Regions from separate parts of the Homo sapiens genome. Here region 1 is linked to region 2. Evidence: fine-mapped expression QTL. A gene starts in region 2. The other region holds a variant in brackets. All regions are shown on one strand. Distances are between the middles of the regions. Region 1 holds the start of PRKG2-AS1 (PRKG2 antisense RNA 1). Region 2 holds the start of PRKG2 (protein kinase cGMP-dependent 2).

Region 1 (5,386 bases), 51 kb after region 2:
ATTTTGAAGTGTATCCTTGCTGAAGAATTTACCTGAAGATAAATTAACCAAGATCATTGACTGCTTGGAAGTGGTAAGAAATTTTGAAGTAAAAAATAAATTTCATTAGAAGATATTAGAATGTACTTATATTATTAACACCATAAATAAATAAAAAGATGTCAGAGCACCAGTCTACAGAGACCAAGAGCCTTTTTCTATGGTGAAAAATCTTAAGCCAACTCATGCTGTGTTAAGGGGTGGAGAAAGGTTTAAACTCTTCAGATGTATAAAAGGAAATTGGATTTGCATGTGTAAAGTGAAATTTGATTTACATATTTTAATCTTTTTAGTATATCTTATAAAACAAACCTGCCTTACTCAAGAAGCATTTGATTTTCTACAATTAACATCACAATCCCCTACAGAGTTTTCATAGTATAAAGGAGTCACTGATGTATAATTAAGAAATGGAGCAGAGAAAGGGTATGTTGGTCCTTTTGGTGGCAAGCCTCTGAGTCAGGCTGTGAAACACTTTCTACTTGAACACTCTAGGCCACAAAAAACACATTTTAAAAACTGTATTTAAGAAGCACTTTATCTATTTTAACATCTAGGGGGAAACGGCATATTGGAATGTGTTCAAAAACTCATTTTAGGCATCACCCAGATGGTTGGTTCTAGTCCAAGACGAGTCAAGTCTTTTCATGAATAATGCTTTTACGACATGTACCTTGGATTCTAACGATATGCATTTTGTGAAAACGTCTTCAGATTTCAGAGAATTAAAATTCAAAGCAAATACGTTCTTTAACTTTTTGGGGGGTCAATTTCATTGAAACCCAGATGGCTTTATGGAATTTAAAGGAGGTAAGGAATAGTAAAGGAGTCACATATAGAATTTAAGCTTTTATAAAGCTGTTCTCAGTGGGAGGAAAAAAAACCCCCAAAACCCTGCAAGGCTGATTGTTGACAGATTCATGCCTCTGTCAATCACAATATACAATGTAACTAATATCTGTCAAGCAGGGAGTAGGGACCATTTTATCCTTAAGTGTAAGTGACACCAGCAGTGTTTCCATTTACAATTCATGCAACCCATCCAGCAGTTTATCAAGGACAGACCATGATGACACAGTGCCTGGCCGTGTGGCCCCAGGGGGTTCAGATATGAAGTCATTTTCAAGAAGATTGCTTAGCCTGCATCTCTGGAGAGTCTCCCATTGTAACATAACCCAGTCACAGATGTTACAAATTAATAATTCATCCTAATTTCTAAGGGTGTTTTTTTTTTTACTTAAAGCTGGAGAGGCCCTAGTTTTTTTTGTTAACCAAGGAAATCTGTTTTTAATATAATACTAATAGAGTAGATTCACCAGAGGGGATTTCTATGTTGACAGCAAATATGAAAATTTAGTATCATTAAAAATAAATGGTAAATTAGACGTATTTATAGCAGCCACAGGCAATTGCTACAGAATATATAGATGGGGGCTCAAATCCAGTAATAATTAACACACAATTCAAATTTGAAAAACTCATCTTTTCAAACACCCTGGAAAGGATTTGCTGTATCTCAGCATTTGCAGACAGCAGCACAGTTTATAAAGGACTCTTTATTCATACCTGGCAAACAAATGTGTCTCTGTGATGTGTGAAAATTCTCAAATGTGAAAGTGATTAACGAGAGTAATGGGATCTATTTAGCGCTAAGAAATGCATGTGATTTACCAGCATAGCTTGGACTAATGACCCATCAACTTGGTCCTGACAACAGCCAATCACTACTGCATCATTTTTGACAGTGTCCAGAGTTCTAGGACCAGCTGTCCCACAAACTGTCCCCATAATCTTTGAAAAAAACAGGCTAAATCTGTCATGCAGTTTAGGAGTTGATTTGGGAGTTTTGCATGTAGCAGGGGGTAAGGAAGGGAGAATCAGAATTTCCCATCACCAAGTAATTGATCTGATGTATTTGTTGAAACTTAGACGGTTGAACTCCTAGAACAAATGGCCCTGATTGTGCAATGTTCCAATGGCATTTCTTGCTTTAGCTTAAATCACTCAGAACATTTATAGAGGCAGCCATTGCCTTTAAGCCTCTTCTTGTGTTCTGATAAGAAAACGAGGGTGGGAATAACACCAACATACTAGAGTTCATTAAGAGTTAACTAATGAGAACTGTAAAGCATGATATAGATTCAGAACGGAGTGTACAGATTAACGACAATGAAAATAATAATATGACTTACGTACCTGGCAGTTATGCAGTATGGAAGGTAAGAGTGGAAGTAGTTTCTGCCCCCACACATGGTGATGAATCCACTAAGCATGAGATTTGACTGTGACATCCTCCTGAACTACAAACATTGTGATTCATCATAAAGTCACCTGTTAGTCACAGTGCTTTGGTATTTGATCCAGTGGCCTTTTGCACTGTGACTCTAACCTGCCATCTTTCACAAAGCTGAGGTGTTTGAGGCTGGGATGAGGGTGTAGTGTGGAGCACCTTTGCCCTTAGTCAGATTGCCTGTGGTGCCGATGAGAAGGCATATTCCCAGGCACCACCCCACACTTACTGAATCGGAAACTCAAGTTGGGGCCCCCAGATCCACACCTAACACTCTAATGGTGGGATTTTTATGCTTATTAAAGTCTAAGAAGCACTGGTTTAGTTATGAATGTTTAGAGTTTGCAACCGTCTGCCTCTTTCTTTGGGAATTTTCCATTTTAATCACTTTTTTCAAGTCTAGTCTTTCTTGTAGTCCTTACCAACACT[C/T]GCATAAACCAGGATTTTTTTTTTTCCTGTCATCCTAACGGTTAAATCCAGAGCCATAAGAAAGTTGAAATAATTGTAGATTTCGCTACAGTTTATGAACCATTGAGCTAAAGGTGGGGCAGCCAGGTGTTGTACAAAGTTCACTAGTCCAAAGTCTGGAGATTAGGGCTTGTGGTTCTGCCTCTGTCACTCTACCAGCTGTCAATGAATTGTGGTAGGCTTTAGCATATCATCTCTTCATCTACAAAATAATGGAGTGGTGGGCCATATCTCTATGAGCTCTTTCAACATTTAAATCATAGAATTCTATATGATTGGCTCACCCAAATAGAAATAACTTCTGTTGTTTTTCATTTTGTAGTATCTGGTTCTTTGAAAATAACCAATCAGGTGCTACATGCCCGAATGGCTGACTGGGCCCACCTGATCCAGGTGTGCTTGCCTTAAAACTTCTGAGGTGTTCTAAACTCTTGTACTTGGAAAACAAAGATTAACTAGTAACAACATAAATAACTAACTGTAAACAATTTTTTAACCGACACACTTGGTACATAGTCACATAATGCACAGAGGTGTGTGTGTGTGTGTGTGTGTGTGTGTGTGTGTGTGTGTACTATACATCTGGTTGTATATCATCAGTACTTCCAATACTTCTTTTTAATGAGGATTTCATTTGCTTTTTGCAAGATACTTATAAAGAAGATTTGTAGCTGCAAATTAAAGGCTCTAAGGAAGTCATTGCCTTCCTTCATTTTCTTTGTCCTCTGTCACTTTGGAATTTCCTTCTGGTTTTATATATTGTATTTACAGGTACTCAGGCTCTAGCATTTTGCTAGATTATCACAGAATGAACATTTTGTTTACAGTAAAAATGGGCTACAACTCATTACCAGGTTATGAAACCAATTTAGAGGAACATTTAAAAAATCAGAATAGTAAGTATAAGTATTATTTTGAAAAATGTTTCAATTTTGTATAAATATGTGTACCTGCTCTTGTGTGTGTATTGGGAGTACATGCAGAATGTATTTCTTACTGTTGGTCAGAATTAAAACATGCTTGAAAACCATTGCTCTGCAGGATAGGGTCTATGGCTTCTTGGTCCTCTAAGGGACACCTTTGCAATGTAACCACAAGGACAATAACCACACTATTTGCATTTCTCTTTTTGGTCTCAGTGACCACCCTGGCTTGACTGGTTGCACTCCCCAGTTGGCAAACACTGGGCAGTCTAGCATCACAGTCAGTACTTACCACTATATATTTTTGGTCTGACCTATTTCCACAGCCTTTTCTGATCTATGAAGTTACTGTCAACACACTGGGAGGTATTATTTATCTTCCTCCCATGGTTTTGGGTGACAAAGAATCATCCGTGGAGAAAAATACCACTAGGAAGGTTGTCCCTTAAAAAATAACAAAGGTCTTCCTCAGTATCCCCTTTCAAGCTTTTCCCCCTTTGAAGTTATTCGGTTGTTAGGAATTAAAGCCACACCTCTGCACACATCAAAGGCTTCATAATAACTGAAGAACAGCCTAACAGCACTTCAGAAATTCTCTGTGTTTCTTCTGCTCCATGTGGGTAATGAGGACTGAAATTGTGATGGGAACAGGAGAGCTTGAAGAGCAGACTGTCTGAAATAGGAACTTCGAACACAATCCCCGCAGCTATAGCAAAGAACATTGAATGTTAGCTATGTGGTGAAGACAGCTGGACTGTGTGGGGGATCAGGATCATCCTATAAGGGTCATAGTCATCTCCACTGCAAAATCACACTGCATATAGTCAAGGTTTGTGATAAAGCTAAAATTGGGAAGGGATGAAGGGTTTGAGTAAGCAAACTATGAGGCAAAGACACGCCAAATATCATTGCTTAAATAAAACAGAAGTTTGTCACTCGTTAACATAACTGTCCAGGAAAGATAGTCCCAATTGGCTCCACACAGTCATTTGGGAATCCAAGCTGATGTCTACTCTGCCATTTTCAACATGTGGTTTTCCAGGTTTGTGTGGGCCATGCCATTATAATTGGGGAAAAAGTATAAAGACACATGCATGAAAGCATGCATGGGCTTGGTGTGGAATTGTCACAGATCACTTCCACTCAGATTATTTTAGATAAAAGTTCATCACATGGCCATAGCTAACAGCAGGAAGGCTGGCAAGTGTAACTTACCTGGACAATCATATATTCCTCTGGAAGACTTTCGTGACCAGCTTACAGCCTCTTTCGTAAGATTAACAGTCACCGGGTACCTGGTGTGCACTAAACATTCCATCAGGTACTTTAGATACACCGTCTTAACTAGTCCTCAAACAACATTAGGTGTAGTAGTAAATATAATCTTAATTTTACAGAAAATGAAACAGAGGTCCAGAAGATGTAGGAAACAGCTGAGCAAATCATTATCATCCTCCTTCTTAGCATGGCAACAATTAATTGTGCATTTACTATATTTTAGATGCTCCTACTATTTCAGGCAACATTGCCTTTCATTGGCTTATTGTGGTAGGCAGAATGGTCCCCTGCCCCACCCCCCCTTCCAGATATCCAGATTCTAATCCCTGGAATGTATGAATATGTTATATTACATGGCAAAAGGGACTTTAATGGTATGCTTAAAGTT
Region 2 (5,386 bases):
AGTCCTGCAGAGCCTAAGAGGCTGGGAATGGTGATTCTCCCCTCCACCTCCAGCATTTAGGTGTGAGCACATGCTTAGTTTGGATTAATGACAGGTGAGAAGTCTCCTGGAAGCTTCCAAGAACGATTTCCCGACTCTGGAAAAGAGAATCTCTGTGACCTTTGGGCACTGTTGGGATTGCCCATAATAAATGGAGTTGTTCCAGTCATCCTGGGGCCATGGGTGGAGCAGCCCCAGGGGACAAAGCTGCCATACTGGGAATGGCAGGGGGAATAACGGGAACAGGCCAGGGCCTTCCCAGACACAACTGTGTTCCTGAATTCACCAACTAGAGCCTCCTGACCTTGGAACTTCTTGCCTTGTGAAACAGTAAGTTTCCTTATAATTTAAGCCATTCTAAATTGGGTTAATTATTAATTGCAGCCTCCCACATCTAAATTATAACCCCATATTTTTTTCTCTCATTTTCCTTCACAGTATTTCTCCCACATATGCTTACTTTTGTGTTTACTTATTTAATGTCTGTTTCTCTCACTGGATTGTACACTCTAAGTTGGCAGAGATCACAAGTTAATTTTGTTCACCATTGAATTCTAAGTATTTAGCACTGGGCCTGAGATGCAGGAGCTGCTGAAAGCACATTTGTTGAAAGACTGAATTAAAAGCTCAAAAAGTGGTCACTTTCCTTCTCTTCCTCCGTTTCCTTGTTCAGCATGGTAGAGTTGTAGATTTGACAGAGCATAGGATTGCTGGGAGGGAACTTAGGTTCCCCCTCAAACTCTTCCTAGCTGGGTGACCCTGGGCAACAGCCTGCACTGCATCGACAGCTTTCAAGCTTTTACCTCAATGAACGGTAAGAAAGTACATATGACCCAGTTGACCCAGTGTGCGTGCATACTCTGCTATTTTTTATTCTATTTGGTATCATTTTAAAAATGCTGGCTTTGACCCAGTACATCAATTTTATAATCCATTAATTAGCAACCCATTGTTTAAAAAAGCCCAGGACTCAATGAAATGTAAGGACTTTGCAGCATTATTCACAATAGCAAAATCATGGAGTCAACCTACGTGTCCATTAAGGGGTGATTGGATTTATAAATGTGGTTTTATATTATATATATACACATATATATATATATATATATATACAAAATATATACACACACACTATGGTGGTATACACACACATACACTGTGTACCTATCACCTGAAAAACTGGGAAAATTTTTTTTTGATTCAGGGGTACTACACACACACACACACACACACACACACACACACACACACAATGGAATACTACCCAGCCACAAAAACAATGAAATCATATCTTTTGCAGCAACATGGATGGAACTAGAGGCCATTATCCTAAGTGAAATTACTCAGAAACAAAGTCAAAAACTGCAGAATCTCTTATAAGTGGCAGCTAAACAATGGGCAGGCATGAGTATCCAGAATGGAATAACAGACACTGGGGACTCCAATAGGTGGGAGGGTGGGAGGTGGGTGAGGTAGGAATTACAACTTATTAGGTACAGTGCACATTATTAGGGTAATAGGTGCGCTAAAAGCCCAGACCTCACCACTATGTGTTATGTCCGTGTAATGCGACTGCACTTGTACCCCTGAATCTGAAATTTTTTTTTAAAGTGAAGACTTTGAAAATCTGTTTTTCTCCTTTTTGTCATTAAATCGCTAATAAAAATTCAGCCCATCAACTTAAAAGTCCATTATTACAGTGACATACAATTACTTATTTTCTCTTTTCTTGTGGAATTCTTCCTCACTCCTTTCTCCTCTAATTTTTTTTTTTTTGAGGTCTTTATAAAATGTACAGACTCTGGGATAGCTTCATGAAAAGGTACTTTGTGTACTTTCGCGATTTTCCTCCAGTTAGCACAAAAACAAACAGGACTATATTCCTCCTCCTCTGAAACTTAATGGTCTCATTCAACATATTTTACATGGGCCTCATTTTTAATATAAGTTTATGTATGTAACAGTGTATACAAATGTTACATGAGCCCCACTGCCACCATGTGGTTTAAAAACCCAAGAGAGTTGGTTGTAACATTCTCTAGATGCACAGTGAGGAATAGACCCTCACTATACTTTCCATCTCTCAACACAGAAACTGCCCTTGTCCTCCGTGAATTTGCTGGTGAAATTCCTCTGGGGGCAGAAGGAAAGGGAAAAAGCCACATGGAGATCTCACAACTCCAGAGCACAGCAAATAATGCGGTGGGGTGTACATATATATTTAGGAAACCATATTGCACCCTTCAGGAAAAAAAAATGTACTCAAAAGGTGACGAGAGAGCATTATCTTCTTGGGTGATCAAGAAAGCTCCCTTCCCAAAGACCTGCAGATTCGGAAGGTATAATCTCTGTCCCTCGAAACTCGATTCAACCCCTGCCCCCAGCATCACGTGAACTGGCAAACTAGATGTAAGTTATGGCCCCAGAGTCCGGGAGGGGCGCGTCGACGAGCTGCTTCGGGGTCACATGTCTTCGTAGAAAGGCATTGGTGTGACAGAGGAGGGCATGTCCAGGGTACGTGCGCCTGTTTGAGCTCTGGGAGGGAAGGCGAAGTGGAGAGAGCCTGCAGTGAAAACAGACTGGAAGGATGGAGGAAAGGGAGGGGAAGGAAAAAATGAACACCTCCCTGAACTTTCCTCTCCCCTCGTCCCACACACTTGAAATAGAAATAATAACATGAACAAAAATGCTTACAACCACGATGTTATCGCCCTACTTAAGTTGCCTCACTATGGAGGGTATGGGGTATAAAGTGCAGACTGCGGCTGTGTCGGGAGTAAAGGTTCGGGCTAGTGTGCGTGCGGGCGCGGGTGACCCCACCTTTAGGGAAGCCGGCGCCCAACTATCCAGGCAGTAGCCCCGGCTGACCCCCTCCCTCCTCCTTCCCTCCTCTCTTCCCTCCCTCCCTGCGTGTCTCCTCTGCACCGGCCCCCGCCGCGGAGCCAGGCGGCAGCACCGACGCCGCCGCAGCTCCTGCCCGCATCGCGCTAACCCGCGCCCCCGGCTCACACGTAGCCGGAGCGACTGAGCCGGCAGCCCCGGGCCCACGCTGCGCACCGTGTGCACGGCGGGGCTGGCTGAGCTGACCTGCGCTGGGCTCCGGCGCCGCAGGCGGCTGGGGAGGGCGGCGTGGGAGAGGACGCTGAGACGCAGGGGCGGCCGCGCCGAGGTGACAAGCTGCGCACCTGGAAAGTTACCCGGCTGTCTGGTGAGGTTCGTGGGCCGGGGGTCTTGGGCGCCGGGGTGTGAGGGCGCGCGGGGAGGGACGGGGTCGGGGTGCGCGCGTGTGCATGCTGTGAATGCGTTGCGCGATGTGCGCCTCTATTCCACACCCAGCCGGTCTCTTGCTTGTGCTGTTCGAGTGTGGACGTGTGTACGCGTTGCATTCGCTCGGTGTGGCAGCGTTTCGTGAGCTCCTGGAGGCAGGGAAAGGCTACTTGTGTTTAGAGGTTCTGTTGAGGGCGGGAGGGGCTCAGCCCCAGTGGGGAGTCCTCAGGGTTCTCTAGGTTTAGCGAGGAGAAGCGGTGGAGGCTGTTGCTCCGAGCTAGGGGCTTGGCGGTGCTGTCAGGGCTTGCGCTCCCGGCTTTGCTTCGTCGAGCTCTGGGTAGTTGCTAGGGGACAGTCCTCAGGCAAGGACTTTTAGGAGTCCTGGTAAACTTGTGTGGGTGTCCTTTTGTCACTCTGGGCACCGTGAGGCGCTTTCATATTTCTGTATTTCTCGGTGATGAAGAAACAAGAGCAAACAAAGCCCAGAAACCAGCCACTTTGGGGATGAGAAAAAAAGAAATAGGTTCAGTTCTGAGAAGAACTACGGTGCAACTACGAAGCAGCTGAGGCCAGAGCTGACAATAAAAGCAACGCATGCAGAATTAGTAGGTAGGAAGGGTGACGCTGGGACAAATGCCTTGATTTCCTGATCTTCATCTTGTTCCCCAAGTTCCCAGGGGCTTTTTCCTTCTTCTTCTTCTCCTTCTTTTTTTTTTTTTTTTTAAGGAAGAGAGCAACATACACCTGCCCCCACCCCACCACACCCCCATATTTAGAGTTTCTTAGAAATTGTCTCTTTTCTTTGCAAGTTTCTATTTAACTCATGAAGAAGGCGATCATCCCACATAACATACACTAGCTGTTTTCAGTACTCCTGTTTAGTTTTGCACAGGAGGGTATGAGCTAATATGGTAGAGAATTCTCTATGGAGAATTAGAGTGCATCCTCTCCGTTGGAACGCTGTATGACTAAGAATAAACGACCTGAAAAGATGATGCCCAGGGATCTTTCTCTTTTACGTGAAATCCTTAACTCCAGTTCTATGAAGTCATTACAAGTGAGGCTAATGAGAATTCACCTCACAGTGAAGGCATATGTTGCCTGGCTGTTGCCCAAGTCCTGTGATCCCTTATTGTCTTGCTTCCTCTAGGCTATTTTTCCTATGAATTATCTCTTCTTCTCCCATGTTTTCGTTTTTCATATCTCCTGTGCTTCATTATCCTGGAGCTACAGACATTTTCAAATTTTCATTATTTTAAAAATCCCTCACATGAATCATGATATCGTCTTGCAGGCTCTACTCTTAGTGTCAGCTCTTTCCATGGTCCCTTGTAGTTGAGTGTCTATCCCCACTCTTTGACAAATCAGATTCAGCACTTTTCTCTCTGATCTCATTTGCTGTGACAGGCCTGTGGGATGTGAGGTACAGCCTGCTCACCTCTTAAGGATCTTATCTGCATGGCCTTTCTGATGCTTCTCCTAAATCTCTTATTGGTACACGTGTTCCTTCTCCTTTGTGGTTTGCTTCTCCTCCTCTTCTCCCACAAATAATATCCACAGATATTACCTATATGTTCATAGGTAACAATAGAGACATTCCTTTCTTACCTCCCTTAGTGATCTCATCTACAAATGGTACTTCAAGTCTTCTATGGAGCAATCTCTTCCCTTGAGTTTTCTTTTTTGCTTCTACCTGCTAGACATTTGCATCATGATGACCCACAAGCATCTCAAACTCAATATATGTAAATCCAGACTCATTACTGTCTTTTCAAAGCATGCTCATTCTCCTGACTTCTGTCAGTGCCACAGTGTCTAGCCCATACACGGTGCCCTATGTGTTCTTTTTGAATGACTGAATGAATGAAGAGTAGATAGTAATACTTTCCTTCAAGCCTCCTAAGATCAAAACATTGAAATCATTTTGATTGCCCTCCCATGCACATCCATTTAATTACTACATTAGAGATGCTATCCTGCAGTGTTCCTCCTACTCACCCTCTTCTAATATTAATCTCTTCACATCCTCTCTCACTTTAACCAAAGCAGTACCTTCTTACCATATCTTACAGTTTTCTTT

Evidence for each region. PIP is the estimated chance that this variant, and not a neighbour inherited with it, causes the effect. A credible set is the group of variants that fine-mapping cannot tell apart.
Region 1: its variant is the best candidate, but not a certain one, in a credible set for the expression of PRKG2 in whole blood (TOPMed, PIP 0.82).

The regions. Positions count from the first base shown.
Region 1 is chr4:81,161,848-81,167,233 of GRCh38, reverse strand. PRKG2 (protein kinase cGMP-dependent 2) reads left to right here. Exons shown (of 19, transcript NM_006259.3): 6 at 10-73. PRKG2-AS1 (PRKG2 antisense RNA 1) reads right to left here and starts at 2,294. Exons shown (of 5, transcript NR_125908.1): 1 at 2,236-2,294. RefSeq lists an enhancer at 1,924-3,123. The variant C/T (reference allele first, on the strand shown) is at 2,759.
Region 2 is chr4:81,212,797-81,218,182 of GRCh38, reverse strand. It overlaps PRKG2 (protein kinase cGMP-dependent 2), which reads left to right and starts at 2,961. Exons shown (of 19, transcript NM_006259.3): 1 at 2,961-3,247. LOC124900726 (a long non-coding RNA gene) reads right to left here and starts at 3,297. Exons shown (of 2, transcript XR_007058162.1): 1 at 3,225-3,297; 2 at 1,959-2,618. RefSeq lists enhancers at 2,928-3,428, 3,429-3,929.